Linked DNA regions of Homo sapiens: all the other regions are linked to region 1. The links come from fine-mapping of genetic effects on gene expression. A gene starts in region 1. Each other region holds a variant in brackets. All regions are shown on one strand. Distances are from middle to middle. Region 1 holds the start of DIXDC1 (DIX domain containing 1). Region 2 overlaps BCO2 (beta-carotene oxygenase 2). Region 3 holds the start of LOC124902756 (a long non-coding RNA gene).

Region 1 (2,662 bases):
ATCAAATGCTCATATTTAAGAAGACAATGTATTCATATGTTGAGTAAAAACTGATTTTAAAAATCTTAAATTTCAGAGAGTCACAGAGAGAAGAAAGAGAGAGATGGAAGGAAAAGGAGCGAGAGAGAAATGAAGAAAGACACAACTAACAGCCTAGGTTTCCCTGGATGCTGGGCTAAGACAACCCGCAAGAGTAGGGCTTAGCTGCAGTCGAAGACGTATGGAGCAAATCTTGAGGGGGAAGCATCCCAAACCAGAATTTCCTGGGTCACAAGAAAAGCAAATGCAATAAACAGAATTGTAAGAGAAACAAGTGGGGAGGAAATGACCCCTTGTCGGCCCTAGCCCATCTTGCCTGTCAGAGTGAGGCCCCAGTTCCTCTGCTCTCACATGGACCGGTGCACGCGCTGGCTCCCTGGACCCAGGACCCAGGTCCCCTCTCGCTCAGTAGCTCCTCTCAGACAACCATGTCCTTGATTGCAGAGAAATCTACTGCCCCGCACTCAGAAAGAGATTCAGACATGAAGAGGGCACTTCACATGGACCATCTACAGTCCCCTGCCCTCTCAAACTTTCTACCAATGCAGTACCACTCCACCCTCCCTTGGCTCCGCTGGTTAGCTCCTGATATAGATGAGCACTTTTGCCAAATATCCAGGGATTCCCTGAGGATTTCCTTGGAGAGAGAAGCTCTAGGGAGGATGGAGACCCCCTCTTCTGGAAGGAGGTGATTTCTGAATTTGTGGTCCTGTCCTCTTGGGCTCAGGTAAGCTACCAGGGAAGGTCATGGCCCAGCTTAGCTGTGGGCAGGCAGCCCTTCTGATTTCTCCTGGTTCACCCATCTGCACCGTAAGTACCACCTTAGCCCCTTTGGGGTTCTGGGGGCGATTTGCTCTGGGGTCCCCAAAGGATGGAGGAGGAGGAGGACCCCTTCCGGAGACTGGGCGGGAGACGCTGGGGGAGGGGAGCTGAGGAGTGGGAGGAGCAGGACAGTTACCTCATTGAAGCCCTCCTGCAGGACGTCCAGTAAGTTCCCTCGGGTCAGGCAGGCTAGCATTGTTCCTGCTGGGGGCTCCCCGGGCGGGGTCTCCAGCCCGGCGGCCGCCGCCGCCTCCTCCTCCTCCCTCTGCACACAAAGGCTCTCGGCTCAGCTCATTGGGATCCCTCCGGAGTCCCGCATGCCACTTACTGGAAACCTAGACTGGAGCCAAACTAGCGGCTTGCACTGGGCATGCTCGCACGGGGGCCTCCGCTGGAGGGGCCCGGCGCGGTCGCGGTTCCTATGGAAACAACTGGGCGCGCACTAGGTTGAGCGGCGCTGCCGGGCTGCCCCCAGCCCCGCTTTCCTGCGGGAAAGCCGCACGGCCAGGCGGGCTGGCGAGGGCGCGCGCTGCACGCCCGCACGCACGCGCACACCCCCCCCCCGCCCGGGCCGCAGCACGGGCGTGTGTGCGTGCGCTACACACACACACACTCACACGGCTTTTAGGCAAACGTGCTGCTGTATGTGCGCGCTGTGTGCATACACACACACACACACATACACACATACACACATACACACACACACGTTGACAAACAGGCGGCCCGGCTGGCGTATGCATGCGCTTGCAGCCGCGCGCGCGCACACACACACCAGGCTTGCAGGCGGGTGTGCCCGTGGGGAGGGTGCGCAACACACACACACACACACACACACACACACACACACTGCTAACTTAAGGCCACAAACGGCCCACCAGAAGGTGGGTGGGAAAGGGAGTGAATCATAGGATTTTCCCCCAGACTAACCGAAAACAGCAACCTTTTTCCACATGGGCCCTGGACAGTGAGGTCAAGCTAAAGAAGAGGAAGCAGAAGGGAAAGAAATAAGAAAGAGAAAGAGCAGAGGAAGAAAGGGGGAAAAGAGGATAAAAAGAACTTTAGTTATTGATGGTATCAGAACACATTCAATAGAACAGTGCTAAACATCACGCAGGATCGCAACAGAAACATCAAGGATGACCAAGCCTTTTCCAAAATTTTCCTATTTCATTCTTTATAAAATAACTGCTAAAATATACAACCCATATTTTAATGTGTTTTAAAATAAATGGGCTTTAATTAAAATAAAGACTGCAAAAATGTCCTGGTGCATTTGAAAGAGGTAAAAAGCTTCCTCAAGTGAAACAGAAAGCTATTCTAGGCTGTTTCTAGCTATTCAAGTCATAGCCTTGATTATTTATTTTTAGGAATACTAGTCATTTGCAACTCAGTGCAAACTCTTGTTTCTATAGGAAAACTCGAAGCTGAAAAAACATTCATTTTACATTCCACCTCGTGATCCCAGATGGAGAGGAAGGGTTTACAGAGCATTAGGGCTCAGAGAAGGTCAGGGCCTTGTCCAAGGACGCAGCCAATCAGTGACAGGCAGCTCAAGGATCTAGGAGTCTACACTTATGATTTTCTGGAAGACCCAGATTCCTCCTCAAATCCTGATTAGTACCTTAGCCAGAAAAGTCAGTAATGGCTCTTATTCAACCTAATGACCTCTTCAGGTCCTTAGAGAAAAAGAAAATCCACCAAGAGCAGCCAGGCTAGCAATATCTTGTCTGAATGTCTAAAGCTGCTAAACACAAAGATGTTTCTGAAAAAGAACACATCTCCCTGACCACAACAGGCA
Region 2 (2,662 bases), 270 kb before region 1:
AACGTATAAGTCATAAAGGAAGAGACTGTATACTGGGCCATATTAAGTTAAGAATGTTTATTCATTAAAAGGCACTATTAGGATAATCTGATAAAGATAGCTAGAAAAATACCTATAGCAATTTTATATTTAATAATGAATTATTAAACATTTTTCAACACTACCTATTCAACTTCTATTCACTATCTTGCACTTCTATTCAACTCGAAGTCCTAGCTGGTACAGTAAGGCGAGAAAAAGAAATAAAGCCCTAAGTATTAGAAAGAAAGCTGTCATTATTTTCAGGTAACATGACTGTGCACATAGAAAATCCAAAATAATCTGTGGATCAACTATTTGAACTAATAAGTGAATTTAGCAAGATCTCTGGATATGAAGATAATATACAAAATCAATTGCATTTCTATAAAGAGCAACAAACAGAAAATGAAAGCTTAAAAGATACCATTTACAATAATTTCAAAACACACAAAAAGAAATGTAGTATCTTTATACTGAAAACTATAACTTTACTGAGAGAAATTTTAAAAGACCCAAATAAATGGAGGGATATTCCATGTTCATGGATTGGAAGACTCAATATTGTAAAGATGTCAATTGTCTCCAAATTGATCTACAGTTGCAATATTGTATCAGGTTTTTTCCTTGCAAAAACTGACAAGTTGACATCAAATTTAAAAGTTTCTGCACAGCAAAGGAAACAATCAACAAAACGAAAAGGCGACCTATGGGCTGGGGAAAAAAATTGCAACCACATATCCAATAAGGAATTATACTCAAAATTTGTATATTTTTAAATTTTTTTGTAGAGATGAGGTCTTGCCATCTTGCCCAGGCTGATCTTGAACTGCTGGGCTCAAGCAATCCTCCCACCTTGGCCTCCCAAAGTGCTGGGATTACAGGCGTGAGCCACCACACCTGGCCTCAAAATTTATAAAGAACTCTTACAACTCAATACCAGAAAAACAAATAACCCAATTAAAAAATGGGAAAAGCCGGCCGCCGCCCCGTCTGGGAAGTGAGGAGCGCCTCTGCCCGGCCGCCCACCGTCTGGGAACTGAGGAACACCTCTGCCCAGCTGCCGCCCCTGCCGCCCCAGGAGTGCCTCTGCCCAGCCGCCCACCCTCTGGCAAGTGAGGAGCGCCTCTGCCCGGCC[G/A]CTGCCCTGTCTGGGAAGTGAGGAGCGCCTCTGCCTGGCCCCCACATTGTCTGGGATGTGAGGAGCGCCTCTGCCCGGCCCCCGCCCTGTCTGGGAAGTGAGGAGGACCTCTGCCCAGCTGCCGCCCGTCTAGGATGTGAGGAGCGCCTCTGCCTGGCCGCTGCGCAACCTTCCAAGTGTGAAGTGACAGCCTTGTGTGTGATCTTTTCTGTCTTCCCCAAGTTTGCATTTTCAATATTAAAGTTTACTTTTTAATTAAAAGTTAAAAATAAATTAATTAATTAATTAATTAAAAATAAATAAAAAATGGGCAATGGACCTGAACAGTCATTTCTCCAAAAATAGAGGCCAGGTGTGGTAGCTCACACTTGTAATCCCAGCACTTTGGGAGGCTGAGGCAGGAGGATCACTTGAGCCCAGAAGTTTGAGAAAAGCCTTGGCAACATAACAAGGCCCCTGTCTCTACAAAAAAGTTTTAAAAATATTAGCTGAGTGTGGTGCCATGCACCTGTAATCCCAGCTACTTGTGAGGCTGAGGCAGGAGGATCATGCATGCCCAGGAGTTTGACAGCAGCCTTGGCAACATAATAAGACCCTGTCTCTACAAAAAAGTTTTTAAAATATTAGCTGAGTGTGGTGCCACGCACCTGTAGACCCAGCTACTTGGGAGGCTGAGGCAGGAGGATCACGTGTTCCCAGGAGTTTGAGGCTTCAGTGAGCTATGATCATGCCACTGCACCCAGCCTGGGCAACAGAGTGAGATCCTGTCCCTAAAAGAATAAAATAAAAAATAAAATAAAATTTGAAAGTCCAATAGGCATATAAAAAGGTGCTCAACATCACTAACCATAAGGGAAATACAAATTAAAACCACTATATAAAACCTCACACTCATAAGGATGGCTATTATCAAAAAGACAAGAGATAACAAATGTTGGCAAGGGTGTAGAAGAAAGGGAACTCTAGTACATTGTTGGTGGGAATATAAATTGGTACAGCCATTATGAAAAACAGTATAGGAGTTCCTAAAGAAATAAAAAATACAGATGACCCTTGAACAACACGGAGTGGGGTAGAGGTGCCAACCCCCTACATAGTCGAAAATCCACACATAACTTTTGACTACTCAAAAATTTAACTACTAATAAACTATTGTTGACTGGAAGCCTTACCAATAACATACAGTTAATTAACACATATTTTGTATTTCATATGTATTATATACTGTATTATTACAATAAAGCAAACCAGATAAAAGAAAATAAGAAAATGTTATTAAAGGCTGGGTGTGGTGGCTCAAGCCTGTAATCCCAGAACTTTGGGAGGCCAAGGTGGGCAGATCATCTGAGGTCAGGAGTTCGAGAGCAGCCTGGCCAATATGACAAAACCCCATCTCTACTAAAAATACAACGGGCATGGTGGCAGATGCCTGTAATCCCAGCTACTCGGGAGGCTGAGGCTGGAGAATTGCTTGAACTGAGGAGGCGGAGGTTGCAGTGAGACGAG
Region 3 (2,662 bases), 140 kb after region 1:
AATTCTGTGTAAACGGCCACCTGCGGGGTATATTGCCATTATACAATTATGGGACCTTTTGCAGTATATTTTCTTTAGCAACACGCCTTCCATGCCCCCTTGCACTCTGACATCCCATGGGCCACCACAGCCCCCCAGCTCCCCACTCTAGACTTCTGCTTTGCTCTGCCCCACGTAATGGCTTTAGGATTGAATTGCTTAGGAAGAGAACAGAAAAAAAACTTTAGATTATTTTTGATATTTCCTTTTCCTTGTGGAAGATGAATATTGTAAGAAGGGTGGGAGGTAAACCAGATGCTCTGGTTTAAGAGTCAGAGCATAGGCGCTCATTCATTCACAGACTATTTATTGAGGACTTTCTGTGGCACTTTCCTAAAAACTAGAGATAGAGCAGTTAGATAAAATTCCATCCTCAAGGGACTGGTGGAGTATAACATACAGCATGGAACTCCTCTTTTGGATAACAGGGTTGTAAGTCACCTTTGCATTAGTTACCATTAGAATAATGTCTCTCACCGCATTTCCTGTTAAAAACTATTAAATAACAGTCACATTTTTGCTCCATACCAGCTTTTTGAGATGTGCTTAAATTGCTTGATATGGAACTATAGGTTGACTATCACTAAGTCTTGAAGGAATTCTGAGATTCTCTTCAGAACTGAAGATAGCTGCAAAAGCCAAGTTCTGCACTAAAGGTTGTAGAAAATCTCTCACTGAAAGGTGAGCTACAATGCAAGAGAGAAAGAAACTAGCTTGAAAAAGCTGCGGCTGGAAAGATAACTGGCAGTGGGCTTAGATTACAGGCTTACAGGGGATATTAATGCTTGGATGGATGGGTGGATGGATGGATGGATAGATAGATAGGTAGAGAGAGAAGAGAAAAACAGAAAGAGAGGAGAGGAGAAGAGAAGAGAGGAGAAGGAAGACAGGACAAGATGTGGGCCAGGCATGGTGGCTCATGCCTGCAGTCCCACTATTTGGGAGGCTGAGGCCACAGGATTGCTTGAAGCTTTAAGACCATCCTGGGCAACATAGTGAGACTCTGTCTCTATAAATAATAATAATGATAATAAATTAGCTGGGTGTGGTGGCACATACCTGTAGTCCCATTACTCTGGAGACAGATCAGG[G/A]AGGATCACTTGAACCCAGGAGGTCGAGGCTGCAGTGACTTGTGATCATGCCACTGCACTCCAGCCTGGGCAACAGAGCAAGATCCTGTCTTTTAAAAGAGAAAGAAAACCTGGATACTAGGATGTTTTCTTTTTAAAATAAAAAATTGACCCAGCATTTCCATTTGTGCCTGCTGAACTGGTGACATCAGGGACTGGCAGCCAGTCATTCATTGACGTCAGCAAGAGCAGATTTAAATCTCCACCGCCGAATGCTCCTCAGCCCTGATAGATAGGGCCAGTAATTGAATTAGAAAACATTCTGAGCCGTGAGCTAATTATGCTGTGCAGGCAATTGCTTTGCCCAGATCTGTTTCATCCTTGAATCACTTGAGTGACTTTCTCACTGGGAGGGGAAGTATTTCAGTTTCCATGATAGAGGCACATATTTATGTCTCCCTGAATCACGCTGCCTGTGCTGCCCTAGGGCAGTACTTTGGCATTTCACTTTATTACAGACATTATTGTATGAGTTTTGATAGGCATTAGTGTTGTCTGTGAATCAGTCTGATCTTTGTTTCCATGTGTATAAATGTGTGCAGGCACATGTCATTCCAGTGCACAACTGCTCTTTCCTTTTTTTTTTTTTTTTTTGAGCTGGACTCTCACTCTGTCACCCAGGCTGGAGTGCAGTGGCGCGATCTCGGCTCACTGCAAGCTCCGCCTCCCGGGTTCACGCCATTCTCCTGCCTCAGCCTCCCAGGTAGCTGGGACTACAGGCACCCGCCACCATGCCTGGCTAATTTTTTGTATTTTTAGTAGAGAAGGGGTTTCACCATGTTAGCCAGGATGGTCTTGCTCTCCTGACCTTGTGATCCGCCCGCCTCGGCCTCCCAAAGTGCTGGGATTACAGGCGTGAGCCACCATGCCTGGCCCGCTCTTTCCTTTTATAAAGGCAAATTACCAATTTGATTTCCTTTTTTCAATAACAATACAATATAACAATTCAAAATGCCCCAGTTATGCTTAGTATATTAAAGCTTTTGATGATAAAATAATCTAGAACAGCAGCTGGAATGTTAGAAATGAAGAATTCAAGCCAGCTTGTTCTTTTGGTTAAAAAGAAAATCACAGGCCGTGTGCAGTGACTCATACCTGTAATCCTAGCACTTTGGGAGGCCAAGGTGGGAGGATTGCTTGAGCCCGGGAGTTTGAGACTAGTCTGGGCAACATAGTATGACCCCGTCGCTGCAAAAAGTAAAAAATTAGCTGGGAATGGTGGCACACACCTTAGTCCCAACTACTCAGGAGGCTAAGGTGGGAGGATCACTTGAACCCTTGAGGTCAAGGCTGCAGTGAGCTGGGATCACACTACTACACTCCAGCCCAGGTGAAAGAGTGAGATCCTGTCTCAAAAGAAAAAAAAGAAATTACAATATATTCCCATCCCAGCTTAGAGGTGAGAATGGGCCTAAGCATATATTGGCTGCTTTCTGATTCCATCTTCTGGAAGAAATTAGTTAGTGGCTTTGTGTGATATAGATAGATAATGC

Evidence for each region. PIP is the estimated chance that this variant, and not a neighbour inherited with it, causes the effect. A credible set is the group of variants that fine-mapping cannot tell apart.
Region 2: its variant is the best candidate, but not a certain one, in a credible set for the expression of DIXDC1 in whole blood (INTERVAL, PIP 0.64).
Region 3: its variant is the best candidate, but not a certain one, in a credible set for the expression of DIXDC1 in whole blood (INTERVAL, PIP 0.63).

The regions. Positions count from the first base shown.
Region 1 is chr11:111,935,895-111,938,556 of GRCh38, reverse strand. It overlaps DIXDC1 (DIX domain containing 1), which reads right to left and starts at 1,214. Exons shown (of 20, transcript NM_001037954.4): 1 at 998-1,214. The coding sequence starts at 1,057. RefSeq lists a silencer at 1,338-1,437.
Region 2 is chr11:112,204,739-112,207,400 of GRCh38, reverse strand. The region is part of intron 8 of BCO2 (beta-carotene oxygenase 2); the gene reads right to left. Among named protein-coding and RNA genes, the nearest start is that of PTS, 20 kb to the left of the region's middle. The variant G/A (reference allele first, on the strand shown) is at 1,157.
Region 3 is chr11:111,792,862-111,795,523 of GRCh38, reverse strand. The region is part of intron 14 of ALG9 (ALG9 alpha-1,2-mannosyltransferase); the gene reads left to right. LOC124902756 (a long non-coding RNA gene) reads right to left here and starts at 1,216. Exons shown (of 2, transcript XR_007062891.1): 1 at 1-1,216. The variant G/A (reference allele first, on the strand shown) is at 1,131.